Homo sapiens: one gene and its partner. The protein of the gene in region 1 interacts with the protein of each later gene in a biochemical or structural test. Each region holds a gene or a part of one and is shown in the gene's direction. Other genes may lie near its edges. The genes, in order: N4BP2 and BCL3.

Region 1 (10,426 bases):
AAAAGCCATATGTTGTATGATTTCATTTTTACCAAATGTTCTGAGTATGTAAATCTAGAGAGACAAAAATTTGATTAGTGGTTGCTGGGACTGGAATGGCAAGAATATGAGCAGTGACTGCTATGAGGCACAGAATTTCTTTGTGAAATGATGGAATGTTCTGGAATTAGTGGTGGTGGTTGCACAACATGATGAATATGCTAAAAACCGCTTAATTGCATATTTTAAAATGGTTAGTTTTATGTTAATTTTATCTCAATTAAAAAAATTGTAAGAAGAGAAAAAGAGGCCAGGCTCAGTGGCTCATGCCTGTAATCCCAGCACTTTGGGAGGCCGAGGCTGGCGGATCACGAGGTCAGGAGATCAAGACCATCCTGGCTAACACAGTGAAACCCCGTCTCTACTAAAAATACAAAAAAAAATTAGCTGGGCATGGTGGCGGGCACCTGTAGTCCCAGCTACTTGGGAGGCTGAGGCAGGAGAATGGTGTGAACCAGGGAGGCGAAGCTTGCAATGAGCCGAGATCGAGCCACTGCACTCCAGCCTGGGTGACAGAGCGAGACTCCATCTCAAAAAGAAAAAAAAAAAAAAAAGAAAGAAAAGAAAAAAGAGCTAAGTAATTTGCCCAAGGTAATACTTGGTCAAGATCCAAGATGCAGATCTTTTCTGGAAGCCAAGGCCCATCTCTAGTGCATGCTGCCACCTGTGGTAGTCTGTAGTTACTGTCAGTCACCACCAGGTGGCAGTATTGTTGAATAGAAATGAATCCAGTGGAAGATTTGTGGCTCTGACCTGCATTGCCTTTTGACATAAGATTAAGGAGTGTTAAAATCGGAGATGAATTTTTTAAAAAAGAGAGACATCTGGACCTTATGTCCCTTCTGGTTGAAATATACACTGCTACGTACGAATCATTTTTGCCTCCAAATCAAACTAGGAGCAGATCAAACCTTTAGAACTGACTACCATTTTATAGGGATTTACAGGGGACAGAGGAACATGTTAAACAACACCATGGGGATACAGTCAGCAAAATTCAGATTGTGAAAATCTAGGATAGGCTGGGTGTGATGGCTCATGCCTGTAATTCCAGCACTTTGGAAGGCCGAGGCAGTCAGATCACTTGAGGTCAGGAGTTTGAGACCAGCCTGGCCAACATGGTGAAACCACGTCTCCACTAATAATATACAAAAATATTAGCTGGGCATGATGTCTCAGGCCTGTAATCCCAGCCACTCTGGAAACTGAGGCAGAAGAATCGCTTGAACCCAGGAGTCAGAGGCTGCAGTGAACCGAGATCATCCCACTGCACTTCAACCTGGGCAACAGAGTGAGACTCTGTCTCAGGGGGAAAAAAAAAAAAGAGGAAGTCTAGGATAAATGATCCAATTTTTTTCAATAAATTGTAAAGAAAAACACCAGGGGAGGGGAAACCTTGTTACTTAAGAAATATATCAATCAAATAGAATGTATAGACTTATTTCAATCTTGATGCCAACAAATTACTGTAAAAACATATTTTTGAGATAATTGGGGGAAATTTTGGAAACTAATGATATTAAGGGACTTTTATTAATTTTATAAGATATGATGGTGCCATTGTAGTTATGCTTTTTAAAGGAGTCCTTATCTTTTATGAGGTATGTACTGAAATATTTGCAGTTGAAGTATCTGGAGTGTGCTGAAAAATGAGTTAAACAGTCCTTTCTAAGGCGTTAAACAGCAAGAACAGCCTGTATTTGGGAAACGAAACATATACATTACTTCATGCAACAAACATCCTTTGAACTCTTACTTGAGGCATGTGAATCAACTAGAGAATATTTTCAGAGCAATAAGTGAACTATTAGCAGGTGATAATCGTATAAATGACTGACCTAAGTGATAAGGGGAGCCATAGTGAAGAGTGTGAGTTATGATTAGAGATTTAGTTGGGCTTTTTTTGTAAGTAAACTTTTTCTTTTTGAGATGGGAGTCTGGCTCTGTTGCCCAGGCTGGCAGTTGGTTGTGACCTTGGTTCACTGCACCCTCCACCTCCCAGGTGCAACCCATCCTCCTACCTCAGCTTCCCAAGTAGCTGGGACTACAGGTGCGCCTCGCCATGCCCTGCTAATTTTTGTATTTTCAGTAGAGATGGGGTTTTGCCGTGTTGCCCAGGCTGGTCTTGAACTCCTGAGCTCAAGTGGTCCACCTTCCTTAGCCTCCCAAAGTGCTGAGATTACAGGCATGAGCCACTGTCCCTGGCCAATGTAAAACTTTTATGCGTAATATAACATATGTAAAGAACAGTGCCCAAAATTATAGGTATATAGTGCAAAAACTTTGTAAAAAGTTCGTAAAAAGGTTTTACACTATATACCTAGAATTTTGTGCACTGTGAATACCTTTGTGAAGCTAGCACTCAGTTGAATTTTGAGCAACATATTGCTTGAAGTAATGGATGTGGATTAGAGATGGAGATCATAGACAAGGAATTAGAAATGCAAGAGCAACATATTCTTTTAAAATTCCAGGCTGAATATCATCTTGGAGATATGATACTTGAAAAACCATTTGTTTGTATTCTATTAGGAGTATTAGGACAATTTAATAAGCAGACCGTGGAATGTTTATATTTTGTGTGTTTTAAATTTATTAATTCATCTCATTAATAGTTTTTTTGTTGTTTTTGTTATTCTGCTACAGCTTTTATTAGTTTTCAGGATTTATATCCTTGATTTTCACAAGGTCATTTCCAAAATGGAACTTCAGTATTTTAGGAGGCTCAGACTCCTTTGATGTTTTAAGAACTATCTATCAGGAAAAGTTTGTTAACAATTGATTATCTTTAATAGTAAGACTGCAATCCAGCTGTGACTAGTGGATTTGCTAATAGCTATTACTGGAAGATAATCTATAAACTAGTTGCTATCATTATCCCTTTTTCCTGATGAGAAAATAGGCACAAAAGAAGCTAAGTAACTTGTCCATGGTCACACAGTCATTTAGTGGCAGAGCTATGATTCAGAACAAAGCTTGATGGCTTTAGAATATTTAATTAACAGGGTTGTTGTGAAGATTCTTAGTTAATAAATATAAGCCACTTAAAGCAGTACTTGACTCCTTTTGTATAGTAATTGTTAGGTATCATTAATGGTATTATTGCCATTATCATTATTTCAGGGAGAACTTCTGGTAGTGCACAGAAATCTCTTCCCCCATAAAGGAAGAAGTCCCACCAAATCTTTTGATGGATAGATTACAATGAGGCTATGTGTTTTAAAACATACATCTTAAAACATTAATTTGGGGGCTTTTTGAGATAGCAAATCTGTCTTACTATTACAGTTTTGAGATGGCAAACCCCAAAATCCTCATGAAAACAATTTCATGTGCTTGAGTAGCTAAGGTTTACGTTTTCTATTGAGAATGTAAGATAAATGAATTTTAACTCCCCTGATTTCTGTTGTAACAGAATTTAAGCAGAACGGTGGGAAGCCCTATTTGTCTGTGATTACGGGGAGAGGAAACCACAGCCAGGGAGGAGTTGCTCGCATCAAACCAGCTGTCATTAAGTACCTCATAAGCCATAGCTTCAGGTGAGTGTAGATTTCTGTTATTAATAATGGCAACTGCCCATATAGATCTTTATCAGATATTTCTGTGAGTATAGATTTCTGTTATTGATAATAGCAATAGCCCTAATATAGCTAGGTAAATAAACACTAATAGCGTACTCAGAACAATCTGTTAAAATAGTTAACTAAATTTAATCATCTGATTTCAGCCACAGATTCATGCTTAAATTATGATATAACTTTCCCTGCTGGATTTATGTTGTCTGGTAAACCAGAAATAAGGAAAAATGTGTTTGTTGCCAATAATCATCTGATAAAACTTTCTATCATAAATTTAAAGTTCTAAAAGAAAGTAAATATATTTGTTTCTTTGATAATATGCAAAATAATTAGGTAATATGTATCATACTTTAAGATTTGCTATTATTCTTTTGAAAGGAAATCAGTATTTGTGGATTTTGGATGGAATTGGGTGGCTTCTATTGAAATATAGTTATAATTTAGGTACGTTTAAACTTTAGCAGAAATGTTCAGTTAATATGAATTTATTTGTGTTTTCATAAGTTAAATGCCATTAATGACCTGTGTTGACAAACATGAAATGTTCTTTTTCATTAAGTGATAATTATTTAATAACAGAAAATGACAAGAAAGTCAAAGATGAAATATCTGTTGATGGATAGATTTCCTGCAGATGTGTATCATTAACTCCTACCCACCAATTTCAGTGTAGCATATTTATTTTATGCCATGTAATAAGATGTTATTTGGCTACATTATCGAAAATGATAGCATAAGTTATGAGCATAAAACAGGTGACATCAGGGTTATTTTTATAAAAGGAGTAGTTAGACCAGAACATTATGTTGAGATTAATTATCTATTTTAGAGACTAGTCTTCCTTTAAATTCTCTCCGGATAGAGTTGAAAGCATTGCATGGCCAGATTAATCAGACTTACCTGATATATCAGAGATTTCTTCTTGGTGCTTTCATGATGCACCAAGGACTTTATTCTTCCTACAGCATACTCTTTTTCATAAAGGTAAAATTCAGGCCTCACAGGTTTTGACAAATCTTAAGTTATACTAAGTCAAGAGCAACCTCCAGCTTTAAGATTGTATTTGTTTTGACCGTAGATAAAAGGAACACAAACCTAGATGTTGGTCTTGGATATTGACTTAATAAGGGTCAATACTTTGGTAGTAAATATTATATTAAGCGTAGGTACTTGGAATTGATTACAAGGTATATTCCTTAGCTAATTTGAAATTTTCATCTTTAAAATAACTCTTTTCTCATTTCTGCAGGTTCTCTGAAATTAAACCAGGGTGCTTGAAAGTCATGCTAAAGTAAAATAAACATCCTTGAATTAGAAGTATGAAGGTTTGTAGGTTAAAATTACTTTTATTTGCAGTAATTCAGTCAATTCTACCCTAAAGATGTGTTTTATTATAAATAATATTCAATTATGAAACAAAAAAATTATGATGTTTTTCAAAATGCAAGTGAGGTTTGATTTTTTACTGAATCAAATGCAAATGTTACCTGTTAAAGATATTACAGAGAAATTTTATTGATTACAAAATATGTAAGAAAATTATCAGCTACAGTTTTAAAGTTTAAAATGCTCTGATTGTTTCTCAGAAAAGGTTACCTTTGTATTAATTGTTGTATGACATTTAGTAATGTCCTAAAAGTCTTTTGTGAGAGGTATTTAAAGTGCTTTGAGACCTGATTCATGCCCCCCAAAGGGTGGTATTAAAAGAGGAAAAAGGACATAGTAGTGGTAGTAAAGAAAAAAAGGAGATCTAACAAAAACACTTGAATATTTTTTATTTTCAAAACTAAACACATAAAATGCTTTTATTTTGCCATATCCTACAGGAAGGAAGACATGCTTTTGCCCTTTCTTCTGCTTTGTATATGACCTTGATCTTTTACCTTTTGTTCTGTTCTTCTGTGTGCATTTTATGGAAAGAAAGTTGGGTCTGAGATTATATTGTAATTTTATACTTTCTATAGACAGAAAGGTTTTCAGAGAAAAAGAAATGGTTAAATATCTTCCAGATGTTGCTGCCTTATCGAAATGCTTCTAGAACTGTCTGTATAAGTCGTATTTCAGACAGTACTAAATACTTATATTTTATTTTTGAGGCATGTAATTTTAAAACTGCAGTAGGTTAAAATTCTATTAAACAAATATAGAAAATATTTTGTTTATAATTGGCCTGGTGTGGTGGCCCACGCCTGTAATCCCAGCACTTTGGGAGGCCGAGGTAGGTGGATCGCCTGAGGTCAGAAGTTCAAGACCAGCCTGGCCAACATGGTGAATCCCCGTCTCTATTAAAAATACAAAAATTAGCTGGGTGTGGTGGCGTGTGCCTGTAATCCCAGCTACTTGGGAGGCTGAGGCAGGAGAACCGCTTAAACCTGGGAGGTGGAGGTTGCAGTGACCCGAGATCGAGATCACACCACTGCACTCAGCCTGGGTGACAGAGCAAGACTCCGTCTCCAAAAAAAAAAAAGAAAAAAAAGAGAAAATATTTTGGTTATAATCATAAGAAGAATCCTTACAATTTAAAATATTTTCACTTTTATTTTGAAAAAGAGCCAACTTTCTCAAAGGAAGCTGTCATTAACTTCTGTTGTTTGGTTAGCTAATAAATTCTGTTAGTATGCAAGTTAAACCTGTGTAAAGGAGGTTATAATGTGGTAAGGTATAATTTTCCAATATGAGACAATGGCTTAAATTTGCCTTTGGAGATGGAGAATATTTTCAACATACATAATTTTAACAAATAGTTTTGTTGCTTTTTGTTAAGCTTAAAAAAAAATTTGGATCAGAAATTATAGGATTGAGCTGGTACCAAAAGAATCCTAAAGTACAGAATGGTTTTCCAAAAGAGCAGACATTTCAATGAAAATAAAACCCCAAAACATTTTTTTTATATATCATGATTGCATGCTTTTAAAATAAGGAGGCTTATCATTGAATTTTAGTTCCATAAAAATGAAAATACATGTTTATTATTTAGAAATGGTTAGTGACTGGTATTGAAGTATTATTCACACTTATGTTTGTAATAATTTATTTAAAGAATGCCAACAGTTTAGCACACTTTTGTAATCTCTAGAACAGTTCTATACATTAAAAATAAACATTAAAAATAAAGCAGTTCCTTTAAACAACTTACTATGAAACTATAATTGTTAATGAAATAAGATATTCCTATGTATACATTAGTATGATTTAAGGGTATGAAAAACAGTGCTAAAATGTGGAGTTAATTGGAATGTGTGCAGCTGCATACTCACTTTCTGTGTTTTTATATTTCCTTACCTAGTTTTAAAAATCATCACTTTTCGGCACTTCAGCTAGACTTATTTCAATATTATAATTATGATTAATGAAGGAGCAGTCAGAAGTAGAGGTGTGGTATTCCGTGGGCAGAAGTCAAATGAAAAAAGCTATATTGTTTACTTGTTTACTATATCAATGTTAATATTATGCCTTATTTTGATAAATCAAATAGTATATCTTAATCATTGTTGATAAATATACAGGCAAAGTTTGAGCATCATATGTATTTTTATGAAGCTGCTTAATTCCAAATTGCCTCCCACCCCACTATCTAGCATAGTTTAAGCAACACATAATTTTGAAAGAAAAGTTTGTAATCCCTCCTTTCTTTTTTTTGCCCATTTCTAAATCCTGTATGCCCGCAGTAAAGATAGTTTGGGGATTTTAAAAGTTTTCTCTATTACCCATTTCTAAATCCTGTATGTCAAAGATAGTTTGGAGATTATAAAAATTTTCATGTATTGGTGTAGGTTGAGTATCCCTAATGAGAAAATTCAAAATCTGAAATGCTTCAAAATCTGAAATTTTTCGAGCACAGACATGATGCTCAAAGGAAATACTCACAGAGCATTTTACATTTGTAGGTTAGCGATACTCAACAAGTAAATATAATGCACATGTTCTAAAATATCCCCCCAAACCCCAGCAATCCAAAACACTTCTGGTCCTAAGCATTTTGAGTAGGGGATACTCACTCAACCTGTATATTTGTGCTAATACATGACTCATTAGAATGATTCTTTGTAAACTTAATATTTTAAAAGTACAGCACTTCTGTAGTATGGAAGGTTTCAGTAATAATTATATTCATTCAGTAGTCTCTTACCATTATCTCCCAGATGGAAAAAGAGGACTAATGTGGAAACCCCAGAGGGTGTCCAGTTGGACCAGGGAGATATTAGACACTTAACAGTATTTTCAGTCTGTCCATCTCTTTATTCCAATGTGAGAAATGGAAGTGTTTTTTTTTTTACGTTTATTGGCTCTTCATATTTCTCTACATTATTTTTAATGTGCAGTTTCTTCAATTGGTTAGTATTTCCATACTATTTGCAACTTTATGGCCTTTAAATATAGGACATATTATATAGCAGAAATTTTGACTTTAAATCCTCTTGAGTAGTATATTTTGAGAAGAAAAGCTATACTGCTCTTCTGGATGGTTTCCATCCTTTATTTAGGTCTTTTCTTTTTGAATTCAAGTGTTTTGTATGCTTAGAAAGTAGACATGTATAATATTGAGATCGGTTATTTCTGAGCTGGAAATTGGAAACTTTGGAAACTCAGGAAATTGCTCTGACAATGTTTTAACTGCTCTCAATTTAAGAAAATGACGAAATGTATAAAAAAGACAAAAATAACGTGTGCTGTTTTTTCCAAGTGCTTTTTCTAAGTGCTTTTCCATTGTGCAATGAGGTGAAGTTTGGTAATTTTTCGGTGTAGTAGTTAAATATTGCTCAATTTTTATTTACATGTAAAGAAAACAGATTTAAATGTTTATGTGGCCAAAAGGTGTCATTTAAAAGGTAAAATAAGTTTATGTAGAATGTATGTTCATGGTGCTTATTTTTAAAATGTAATTCAAGTTTACAGTATTACTTAATGCTTCTTTACAGAATTTAATAGAGAAACAAGGCTAGAACACATCTACATCCTGAAGAGCCGTTTATAACTTCATATTATATGATGACAAAGTTCATTATTTTCCTTAAAGTTGAGCAATTGACTTTTATGGTCCAATGATGAACTTATTATTAATAAATGATTGAGTTAACTGTGAGGCTTCTCATTAAAATACAATATTGCAGCTATCAGTTGGAGAATATATTATAAAATTTTCAGACAGTATATCAGAAAAATGTTTTTATTTGTACTGTATAGAAAATGTAATTTTGCTGTTAACTCTGTACTTTTTAAATTGAAAATGTTTTATAAATTTGCTTTTAAATTTTCTTATGAAGCCATTTGCAAATTACATACTTAATTTAATAAAATACTTTAGCCACAGTCCAGTGTGAGGAAATCCTTCATTTGATGTATTAGAGTTAGTGGGTTAAATATTTTAAAATATTTTCATGTCTAACTTTGTAATTTCAGGGGGAAAGTGTCATGAAAATTTTATTTCTGTACCAAAACTTTTCTTCTGGTTTACGTTTTCTGTAGCAAATAAGAGTCTACTTTTGAACCAGATAAATGGATTGGCTATGGTTTCTCTCCTCACACCCTGTATCTTTTAACTGATATCAAAATTAAGAATTATATCTCTTAGAGGCCAGACGCGGTGGCTTATGCTTGTAATCCCAGCACTTTAGGAGGCTGAGACGGGCAGGTTGCTTGAGGTCAGGAGTTTGAGACCAGCCTGGCCAACATGGTGAAACTCTGTCTCTACAAAAAATTAGCCAGGCATGGTGGCATACACCTGTAATCCCAGGCATGAGAACTGCTTGAGCCTGGGAGGTGGAGGTTGCGATGAGGCGAGATTGTGCCACTGAGCTCCAGCCTGGGCAACAGAGTGAGACCATCTCAAAAAAAAAAAGAATCTCTTAGAGACTCAAGTAATGCTTTAAATAATATTAATGACCTTGGAACTTTATATTCGAGTCCAAAGCAGAATTCACTCATTTTGCAAGGACTTAAAAACATTTATCTAACAAATATTTAGAGCACTCGTTACTGGGGTTACAGGGTAAATGCGATAGAGCTTTTATCCAGAATTATAATTATTCTTATCAACTCCTATGTATATAGTGACTTATACTATGGGATACTCTCGTATATGTTATATTTTAAATCTCAAGAGAATTTTATTACATAGGTAGTGCTATCCCAATTTAATGAATAAAGCCACATAGACTTAGAGAAGTTAACTGGTTTGCTGTTTAATGTCAGAGGTATAACTTGAACCACATTCTCTGACTCCTAATATGGAGCAGCTGCATTTGTCCTAAGAGAGAATAGTTACTTATAAAGAGATAATAGTCTACTGTTCTCTCCAGAGAGTTGTGGCTCCACAGTATATGTCTTTGAAAACCTACCATTTATGATTCTGCCTTCTTCCTTTATACGAAAGCTGGTACTTTGGAAAAACCCAAAATACTAATGGCAAAAGGTAAAAGTTTATTTCTTTCTTCCTATAAAATCCCAGGGATAAAAATTCCAGGACTGCTTTACTTGACGCTTTTGGGAATCTAGGAAAGTTCATCATTCTGCCATACCCAAGATAATGGCCCTCATTTTCCTAGGCCAGGGTGGGTGGCTACATCTCTAACTGTCACATCTGTATTCTGCTGGAGGAAAGACAAAGAAAAAGGGAGCAAAAGGCAAGTGCCAAGTGGTCTTAAAGATGGTTTTTGGAACCTGCCGTAGGACACTTCTACTTACGTCCTATTGACCAGAACCTAGTCATGTCATATCTAGCTGCGAGGGAGGCTGGGAAATTTTCTATTTCAGACTGCCATGTTCTGCTGAAATTTGGTATTCTCTTGGAGGAAAGAGAATGGATATTA
Region 2 (10,255 bases), on another chromosome or scaffold:
CAGAGAAGAGTTCCAGGGTGCGAATCTCCATGGGTGTCCTCGGACATATGACTTTCCCTCTCCATGCCTCAGTTTCCCCATCTAAACCATTTCTTCCCAGGGAGAAGGGGCCTAGAATCAAGCTGGAAGGGCACACCTGCAGTCTCCGAGACTCATGGCCACTTCTCCCAGGTCAGAAGCGTGCTGGGGTCACAGGGACCTGGCTTGAAATCTCAGCTCTCCCCAGTTCCTCACCGTGTGACCCGGGCAGTGAGTTCACTTCTCTGTGCCTGTTTCCTCCTCTATAAAATTGGGTTTTTAGCTGAATTTTCCTTACAAGGTGTTAAGAGGATTAAGTGGGCCAATTCTTAGTTGCAACTCAGCCCGGAGTGAATGTTTCTGTCTTGTCTCCTCTGTGAGTAGAAAAGGGTGAGAAGGAGGCCCTGGTCTGCTGGATAGGGTAAGGGTTAAGGCCAGCAGCGTGGAGACAGAAATGAACATTATTCATTCATTTATTCCACACACTTTTCTTATTTAATCTGCTCAGTAAGCCTGTGAAACAGGATCTGTTATCATCCTGTTATTATTATTATTACCATTATTTTGAGACAGAGTCTCACTCTGTCACCCAGGCTGGAGTTCAGTGGCATGATCATAGCTCACTGCAGCCTTACACCTAAAGCAATCCTCCCACCTTACCCTCCCAAGTAGCTAGGACTACAGGTGCCTCCTGAGCCCAGCTAATTTTTAAAAATTTTGTGTAAGCCTGGTGTGGTGGCTCACACCTGTAATCCCAGCACTTTGGGAGGCCGAGGCAGGCGGATCACAAAGCCAGGAGTTCGAGACCAGTCCAGCCAATATGGTGAAACCTCGTCTCTACTAAAAATACAAAAATTAGCTGGGCATGGTGGCACGGGCCTGTAGTCCCAGCTACTCAGGAAGCTAAGGCAGAAGAATCGCTTGAACCCAGGAGGTGGAGGTTGCAGTGAGCCGAGATTGCGCCATTGCACTCCAGCTGGGTCAACAAGACGGAAACTCTGTCTCAAAAAAAAAAAAATCTGTAGAGACAGGGTGTCCCCTTGTTGCCCAGACTGGTCTTGAACTCCTGGTTTCAAGGGATTCTTCCTTCTACCTTGGCCTCCCAAAGTGCTGGGACTACAGGAGCACACTCCATGCCCGGCCCCATTCGCCACTATTAAAGTCACAAGGGGCTGGGCATGGTGGTTTATACCTGTAATCTCAGCATTTTGGGAGGCCAAGGCAGGTGGATCACTTGAGGTCAGGAGGTTGAGAACAGCTTGGCCAACATGGTGAAACCCAGTCTCCACTAAACATACAAAAATTAGCCGGGCATGGTGGCGGACGCCTGTAATCCCAGCTACTTGGGAAGCTGAGGCAGGAGAATTGCTTGAACCAGGGATTGGAGATTGCAGTGAGCCGAGATCATGGCACTGCACTCCAGCCTGAGCGACAGAGCGAGACTCCATCTCAAAAAATAAAAATTAAAAAATAATAAAGTCACAAGGAAGGCACAGAGAGGGAAAGCCACCTGCCTAAGGTCACATAACTAGCACATGGACGAGCCAGGGCTCAAAACTATGTCTCTAAGCCCAGCATGTTGAATTCTATTTTCCCCAATGAAGCAGGTCCTGCTATTGAAAACACAGGATATTTGATGAGGACAATAATAATATATAATGTTATATTATTATTATTATTATTATTATTATTATTATTATTATAAAACTAATAGCAGCTAAATTGCATCAAGAGCCTTCTATACATCAGACCCCATGGGACAGAGTCATATTTTCTTGATGTGATCCACTCTACAGATGAGGAAGCTGAGGCTCCACGAGGTTAAGTAACTGCCCGGAAGTCACAAAGCTAACGATCAGGAGACAGGACTTGGACCCAGGCCTCAATTCAAAACAAAGTAGGACAAGGAAGCCAGATGCGGTGGCTCACGCCTGTAATCCCAGCACTTTGGGAGACCGAGGAGGGAGGTTCGCTTGAGCCCAGGAGTTCGAGAACACCCTGGGCAACACAGTGAGACCCCCTGAGTCTACAAATTGTTTTTTTTATTAGCCAGTCATTGCGGCACATGCCTGTAGTCCCACCTACTTGGGAGGTTGAGGCAGGAGGATCATTTGAGTCCAGGAGTTCAAGGCTACAGTGAGCTATGATCTCACCACTGCACTTCAGCCTGGGAGACAGAGCCAGATCTTGTCTCAAAAAAAAAGCAGGACAAGACCCAGTAATTGAGCCAGATGGGAACTTAGGCCCTGACCAGCCCTACTCTCTCCTCTTAGAAAGGGAAATTGAGGCCCCTGAGAGCAAGAAAGCTGCCTCAAGCCTACAGACTTCCAGATGGAATTTCGTTTCCCTCTCAGGACTTTGAGCAGGTAAATTCCTGGCCTTTCCTCCCCCAGGATGGGTTGGGGAAAAAGAAACAGCAGCTGGGGAGGAGATCTGAACAGGTACAAAGGGCGGCCTGCATGAGGGGAAAGTGGTTAGACACCAAGCAGAACTTCCTGGCCTCCTCTGGGAAGTTTCTAAGACTCATCCAGGGGCTGCCCCTGCGGGTGGGGGCCCTCCAGAGGCCAAGGCCCAGAGAAAGGAGACCCTAGTCCTTTCCGCCTGGGGTGCAAGGAGCCGGGGGAGGGTGGGGGTGGCCATCCTGGTTCCGCATCCTCCGTTCCCGACATTGGAGGGAGGCTGCTGTGGGAGCTGGGACTTTCCTGAGAGCAGAAGATTCTGGGAAATTAGAGACAGCTGCAGGGCGGGGCTGCCTCCCAGCCTCCCTTCCCTTCCCTCCCCTTGGTCCCTGCTGGCTCCGGAGGCACGCCTCTCCACCCCTCCACCCCACCAGCTCCTCCTCCCCTAGTCCATGCCTTCCACCCTCGGACCCTCAGATCTTTTCCCCTGAGCCTCTTTCTTCTCCCTCAGATCTGGCCTCTACCCTCAGACTCTCTCCAAATCTTCTTTCCTCAGACCCTTCTTTCCCCTCCAACTCTCTCCTCCTCCCTCAGAGCTGCGTCCCCTCACTTAGTGCTTCTCAGACTTCCTCAGACTGTGCCCTCTCCCTCAGATACTCTCCCCTCCCCTCAGACCCTCACCTCCTCACTCAGACCCTCACTTCCTCCTTCAGACCCTCACCTCCTCCCTCAGACCCTTACCTCCTCCTTCAAACCCTCACCTATTCTCTCAAACCCTCACCTCCTTCCTCAGATGCTTATCTCCTCCTTCAGACCCTCACCTCCTCCCTCAGACCCCCACCTCCTCCTTCAGAGCCTCACCTCCTCTCAGACCCTCACCTCCTCCCTCCAAACCTCACCTCCACCTTCAGACCCTTACCTCCTCCTTTAGACCCTCACCTCCTCTCTCAAACCCTCACCTCCTTCCTCACATGCTTATCTCCTCCTTCAGACTCTCACCTCCTCCCTCAGACCCCCACCTCCTTCAGACCCTCGTCTCCTCTCTCAGACCCTCACCTCCTCCCTTAGCCCCTCATCTCCTCCCCCCGAACCTCACCTCCACCTTCAGACCCTCACCTCCTCCTTCAGACCCTCACCTCCTCTCTCAAACCCTCGCCTCCTTCCTCAGACTCTTATCTCCTCCTTCAGACCCTTGTCTCCTCCCTCAGACCTTCACCTCCTCCCTCCAAACCTCGCCTCCACCCTCAGACCCTTATTTCCTCCATCAGACCCTTACCTCCTCCAACAGACCCTGTCCTCCTCCTTCAGATCCTCTCCCCCTCCTCCCACTAAACCATCTACTTCTCTCTCAGACCTATCTTCCTTCTTCAGATCCTCCTCCTTCTGACCCTTTTATCCCTCTTCCAACCTCAGAGAACCATCAGCACCCTCTCTTCCAGCAGCACCGTCTCTCCCAGCCCTTCGAAGCTCCCACCGGACCCATCACATCTTCTCCCCTCTACAGTCCTGCTAGGTTGGAACCACTGCACCAGCTGCCCTGGGATGCCAGGAGTGGGACAGGCTTGGGTGTCCTTCCCACCCTACCTCTGAGGGTCCCCACCCTAAGCCTCGCCCCTCCAAACCTCAGCTTTCCTTTCTGTGCATTGGGATAGTGCTCCACACCCCTCTCCTGTGTCTGAGGGTCCCCAGGGGTGGGGTTGGATGGGCAGGGAACACAGCCCCCAGCCTGTCCAACCGAATTCCTCCCCTCTTCCCTTGCTGTGGCCCCCACAACACCAGCAGGCAGGGGTTGCCATTGGTCCCATTTTCCAGAAGAACAAACTGAGTCTCAAGGCAGGGGATGGCTTGTCTGAGGTCCCACCGGGAGCAAGGGGTGGAGGTGGAATTAACACAGGTCTGTGCTCGGGATGTTTCGCCATGAAGGGGGATAAGGGAGATCCAGAGAGAGGTCGAAAGGAAGGGAAGGGGTGAGGCCTCTCCACACAGCCACTTCTCACATCCTGGGTTAACGATCCACTCGGGTGGGGCCCGAGTCCGGCCAAAGTCCCTTCCCGGGGCCCCAATACCCACTTTCAAGGTCCCAGGGGACACAGAGACAGCAACAGAGATGGGGAGACAGAGACAGAGGGCGGGGCAGGAGACAACCAGAGGGAGGTCAGGCAAGTTTCGAAGACAGAAGGAGACCGGGGGAGAGAACCAGAGAGACGCCGCGTGCCCCCTGGGCAAGTCCGGGGTGCAGCCCCCATGCCCCGCCCCCTGTGTCCCCAAAGCCTCCCTCTCCGCCTCCTGTGACTCAGTGACCCGGACTCAACCCCAGCGGCTGCCCCGCCCCCAGGGAAATCCGGGAAAGCCCCGGACCTTCGGGGCCCCACCCCGGGGCGGGGAGAGGGAGAGGAGGGGAGGAGACGGGGAAGAGTCCCGCCTCCCTCCTCCCTCCCTCCCATCTCCAGCCTGAGTCATGCCCCCAACCCGCCTAGCCTGTTCCCCACCCATCAACCCCTCCTCGAGGTGGGAGGGGAAGTCGGGGGGAAGCCAAACTGCTCCCCGCTCCTGCAGCACCGGCCTCGGTCGCGCTGACTCTGGCCTGGTGTCCGTGTCTCTTGCTATCTCTCTTTCTCTCAAGATCTCTGCGCCTGTCTCCATGTCTCTTTCTCTCTGTGCACCTAGGATTTTCCGAGCACCCACCCCGGTGCCCCGCGGGCCCCGGCTGGGGGCAGGGCCCCCAACGAGTGCAGAGACACAATCAGTGGAGCGCTCCCCACCCTCACCCCACCCCCAGCCCCTTTAGACCCACAGCTGATGAGGCACGTGGAGTGGCAGAGATGGAAGAGGGGAGGGAGAGGAATCGTTCCTGGCCGCCTGCCGAGTGCCAGTCCCTGCCCCGGGTGCGTCTCTTCACTCCCACTAAGGAGGAAACGGCTCAGAGAGGGGAAGTGTTTGGCCAAGGTCACCCAGCGAGTAAGTGGGAACCGAGATTCCAAACCCCGTCCCAGAGATGCCAAGGCCTCCTGAGAGACAGAGAAGCAGACAGCAACTGAGAGGCAGAGAGATGGTGACAGACACAAAGAGACAAAAGAGAGAGACAGAGACGGAACAGAGCACACAGAGACAAACGCGGGGTTGCGGAGAGAAACACCTACTCAGACAGGAGAACCAGAGAGACAGTTACAGACTCAGAGATAGAGATGTTGAGAGATAGGGCCAGAAAGACAAAAACAGAGGCAGAGAGAGCGGCCCTTGGCAGCAGGGGTGGGGACACCCCCCCACCCCCCGACCCCGCCTCCTCTCCCCCCACCCCTCCTTTCCTCTCCCTCCCCCGCCGAGGCCTGGCTGCCCCAGGCGCCGCGGGCCGGGAGGGGGCAAGCGGGGCGCGGCGCGGGCGGGGCGCAGGGCAGGCTGCACCTCAGAGCGGCGGGAGCAGCGGCGGGTCCAGGAAACCCCTGGGGCGTACGGGTGGCCCCGGGGGGGCCGGGGGCGGGGAGGCGGGCGGCCGGCACCGCCCCGGCCGACAAAAGTCCCTTCAGTTCAGCCGGCTGCAGGGGAAGTCCCGGCGCCCGGCGAAACCACCCTCCCGTGCAGCCGAGCCCAGCCGCTCTCCGGCCGCCGTCCCCGGCGGCCCCATGCCCCGATGCCCCGCGGGGGCCATGGACGAGGGGCCCGTGGACCTGCGCACCCGGCCCAAGGCCGCCGGACTCCCGGGCGCCGCGCTGCCGCTCCGCAAGCGCCCGCTGCGCGCGCCCTCCCCGGAGCCCGCCGCTCCCCGCGGCGCTGCGGGCCTTGTCGTCCCCCTGGACCCTCTGCGCGGCGGCTGCGACCTGCCGGCGGTCCCCGGGCCCCCCCACGGCCTGGCCCGGCCGGAGGCGCTTTACTACCCCGGTGAGTGGCCCCCGAGGGTCCGGGCCGGGTGGGATCCACACAGAGCATAGGGTCACCAGAGCCAGGAGGCAGAGCTTGAGGCACAAACCGGTGTCTCTCCAGGGACCTGGGGGACAAGAGGATATAAGCCCAGGTTCCAAGGATATAGATATGAGATCATCGGGGAGCCAGTAAGCTGTGCCTTGGGATCTGGGGATTTGGGGACCCTGGGGGGCAAAGCCCAGGGGCTGAGTGACGTGGGGGGGGGGGGGCCAGGGACAATGCCCAGTGGTACAAATATGGGGGTGTCAGGGAATCAGGGCACAGAGCCTGGTATCCTAGGGGCAAGAAAGTACAAGCTCTTAAGCCAGATGTGTAGCGTTATGAGGAAGCTGAGCTGGGCTGGAGAAACTGGGGTTCCCTGTATCCTGATATTATTAGAATCAAAGGGAGTCAGGGTAACAGAGACTGGGGTTCTAAGGAGACAGATACTGAGGATCTCAGGATGTCACAATCTCAGGAACCAAGATATCTGGAGACATGGGCATTATGAAAACAGAGATGGGGTTCTGAGCACCCCAATATCTGGGATCACAAGGATCCAAGGAAATGAACCAGAGCTCCAGGGACCCAGATACCAGGGGGTCTTGAGGACCCAGGAGAACAGAGACCCGGGTTTCTGGGTACTCAGTTATGTGGGGCCACAAGTGATCAGGGTCCTATTTGAGGTCAAGATCAGGTGGGCAGAAGGGATCAGGGGACTGAGGATCCTAAGATTGGGTAATTCTGAGACTTTGGGTAATTTAGAGGCAGGATGAAAATTTCAGGGGTCTCCAGACAGAAAGCCTCAAGGCCTCAAGGCCTGGTATTGGAGATACGAGGACCTGGAAACTTGGGAGTTCAAGAACAGAGGGCCCACAAGGATCAGCAGATGACGAAGACCACACACTCTTCTCTCCATCCTATCTCCATCCCTGATCTCAAGAAGGGGTGTCCTCTACCACAGCTGTGGCCACGTCACCATCCCCAATTGACCCCCAAAGCTGCAGAGAGCCGTTCTACAGAGCCCCAAAACTTTAGGTAGTTTCTGCACCCTCCACCCCATCAGCGTGACAGCTGGAGAGCCTCAAGCTATGTGCATCAGGAGTTCTGCCACGGCCTCCCAGCTTTCCTATTCCAAGAGTGAGAAAGCAGGCCTCAGTTTTCCCCGTCTGTGTGATGGGTTGGTATGGATTTGCCTGCTGCCATGGTCCCCTCGCCTTTGTTTGTTTTTGTTTTTGTTTTTTGAGACAGAGTTTTGTTTTGCTCTGTCGCCCAGGCTGGAGTGCATTGGCGTGATCTCGGCTCACTGCAACCTCCGCCTCCCAAGTTCAGGGGATTCTTGTGCCTCAGCCTCCCGAGTAGCTGGGATTACAGGCATGCACCACCACACCTGGCTAATTTTTGTATTTTTAGTAGAGACAGGGTTTCACCATGTTGCCCAGACTGGTATTGAACTCCTGACCTCAGGTGATCCGCCCGCCTCGGCCTCCCAAAGTATTGGTATTAGAGGCATGAGCCACAGCGCCCGGCCTGCCGTGGCCCCTTTTTAAACAGTTTGATCTAAAATTACCCATGCGTGGTGGTCAGCATCTGTAATCCCAGCTACCTGGGAGGTTGAGGCAGGAGAATCGCTTGAACCTGGGAGGCAGAGGTTGCAGTGGGGCAAGATCGTGCCACTGCACTCCAGTCTGGGCAACAGAGCGAGACTACATCTCAAAAACAATTTGAACAGGCTTCTGGTAACACCTCCTCTCTGCCTCCACTCTCCCCAAACCCACTCTACATTTATCCCACACCCTGCACCCAGCAATTCATCAGCCACAAAATCACTCTGCAGACAGTCCCTGGGGTCCCCTGCTAGGTGATGATGGGTGCACCCTCTGTTCTTAAGGGACCCTTTGTCTGATTGGAGATTGAGGTCAGAAGATAAGTGACAATGAGGGTGACCAGCCCTAGAGGGAGAGGAAGCTGCCAGAGCCCAGAGGAGGGACGTGGAAGGGGGTTTGTTTTAGGCCCTGAGGACCCTGTATGGGATGCAAAAGGGACCCAGGAGAAAGGGCAGGTGACACCACAGGAGCAAAGTTTTAGAAGTGGGGGGCGGGTTGAGGGTCTGTGGGTGTGGCCTCACCCATGTCCCTTCTCTGTCCTCCATTGTCCAGGAGCCTTACTGCCTTTGTACCCCACTCGGGCCATGGGCTCCCCGTTTCCTCTGGTGAACCTGCCTACACCCCTATACCCCATGATGTGCCCCATGGAACACCCCCTTTCTGCTGACATCGCCATGGCCACCCGTGCAGATGAGGACGGAGACACGTGAGTGACAGTCCCCTATTAAGGGGAGGGGTGGTTGGGAAGACCAGCCGTCCATAACACAGGGCCACTCAGCTCCCAGTGGACCTGAGTCAGAACTCGGTCTCCACCACAGGCTGTGTGACCTTGAGTAAGGCCCTTCCCTGCTCTGAGCCTCAGTTTCCTCCTCTGAAGAATGGGCACCTTGAGAGCATTTACCTCCTAGGCCACTATTTTTGTTTGGTTTTTGTTTTTGTTTTTTTGAGACAGGGTCTCACTCTGTCGCCCAGGCTGGAGTGCAGTGGCACGATCTCAGCTCACTGCAACCTCTGCCCCCCAAGTTCAAGTGAGTCTCATGCCACAGCCTCCCGAGTAGCTGAGACTACAGGTGCCCACTGCCAAGCCTGGCTAATTTTTGTATTTTTTGGTAGAGACAGGGTTTCACCATGTTGGCCAGGTTGGTCTCAAACTCCTGACCTCAAGTGATCCACTCGCCTTGGCCTCCCAAAGTGCTGGGATTACAGGCATGAGCCCCAAGCCCACCCCTAGAACACTATTTTTGGAACGGTGGTCTTTAGATATTTTGTCACAACCTAAAAACAAGAAAGACAGTTCATTGATTAACTTACTATATGAATTATACATGTAAAACTATCACTGGACCTGGCATAAATGTTGAGTAAGTGTTTGTTAATATTACTATTATTTTATCTCAAACCCAGCACACACACACACACACACACACACACACACAAACTTGAAATTAAAATTGCACAAAATGAAACAATACTCGCCCTTACTATGTGGGTTCTACTGTGACATTTTCTTTTTTTCTTTTTTTCTTTTTCTTTTTTTTTTTTCTGAGACAGGGTCTCGATCTGTCACCCAGGCTGGAGTGCAGTGGTGCAATCATAGCTCACTGCAGCCTTGATCTCTTGGGCTCAAATGATCCTCCCACCTCAGCCTCCTGAGTAGCTGGGACCACAGACGCTACCCCCACACCTGGCTAATTTTTGTATTTTTTTTTTGTAGAAACACAGCAGTCTTGCTATGTTGCCCAGACTGGTCTCAAACTCCTGGGCTTAAGTGATCCTCCCACCTCAGCCTCCCAAAGTGCTGAGATTACAGATGTGAGCCACCGAGCCCAGCTTACAGCTTTACTTTGCCATTTTCTATTCTAGTCGACTTCATTGTTTCATGGTCACAGCCCACTACATTAATTTGAAGATCCCCTAAATTGATTTCACAACCCCCATGGTTTATCACCTGCAGTCTGAAGAACATGTTTGTGAGGCTGCTGAGAAGTCCTGCACGGGAGGGTTTGGTCTGTGCCTAGCACATAGTAAGCACTCACTGCAATTGATCATCATGATTCTTATTATTCTATTGACCTGGGTTGGAATCTCAGCGTGGCCACGTTCTACTCCCTCTGTGCCTCAGTTTCCCTCTCTGTAAAAACAGGAACCATCGCGTGTGAGGGTCTCTGGGAGGAAGAAATGACATGATTTATACAAAGCACTTCTGTGAGAATTAGTTTGGGGCCTGGAAACCACAGGTAGAGATGAACAGGCCTGTTTCTGCAGAGAAGTAGCAGAGGGCTGCTCCGCCACTGGCCCACTGAGTGATTTCATGTCCCTGAGTCTCAGTTTCCC

Evidence for each region.
Region 2: the proteins of N4BP2 (region 1) and BCL3 form a complex in vitro, tested with the Homo sapiens proteins (one study listed by BioGRID).

The regions. Positions count from the first base shown.
Region 1 is NC_000004.12:40,149,326-40,159,751, forward strand, and holds the end of N4BP2 (NEDD4-binding protein 2), read left to right. Parts: intron 1-3,454; coding exon 3,455-3,578; intron 3,579-4,866; coding exon 4,867-4,912; 3' UTR 4,913-8,927; downstream 8,928-10,426. UniProt on the Homo sapiens protein: Has 5'-polynucleotide kinase and nicking endonuclease activity. May play a role in DNA repair or recombination.
Region 2 is NC_000019.10:44,742,754-44,753,008, forward strand, and holds the start of BCL3 (B-cell lymphoma 3 protein), read left to right. Parts: upstream 1-5,954; 5' UTR 5,955-6,037; coding exon 6,038-6,293; intron 6,294-8,473; coding exon 8,474-8,627; intron 8,628-10,255. UniProt on the Homo sapiens protein: Contributes to the regulation of transcriptional activation of NF-kappa-B target genes. In the cytoplasm, inhibits the nuclear translocation of the NF-kappa-B p50 subunit.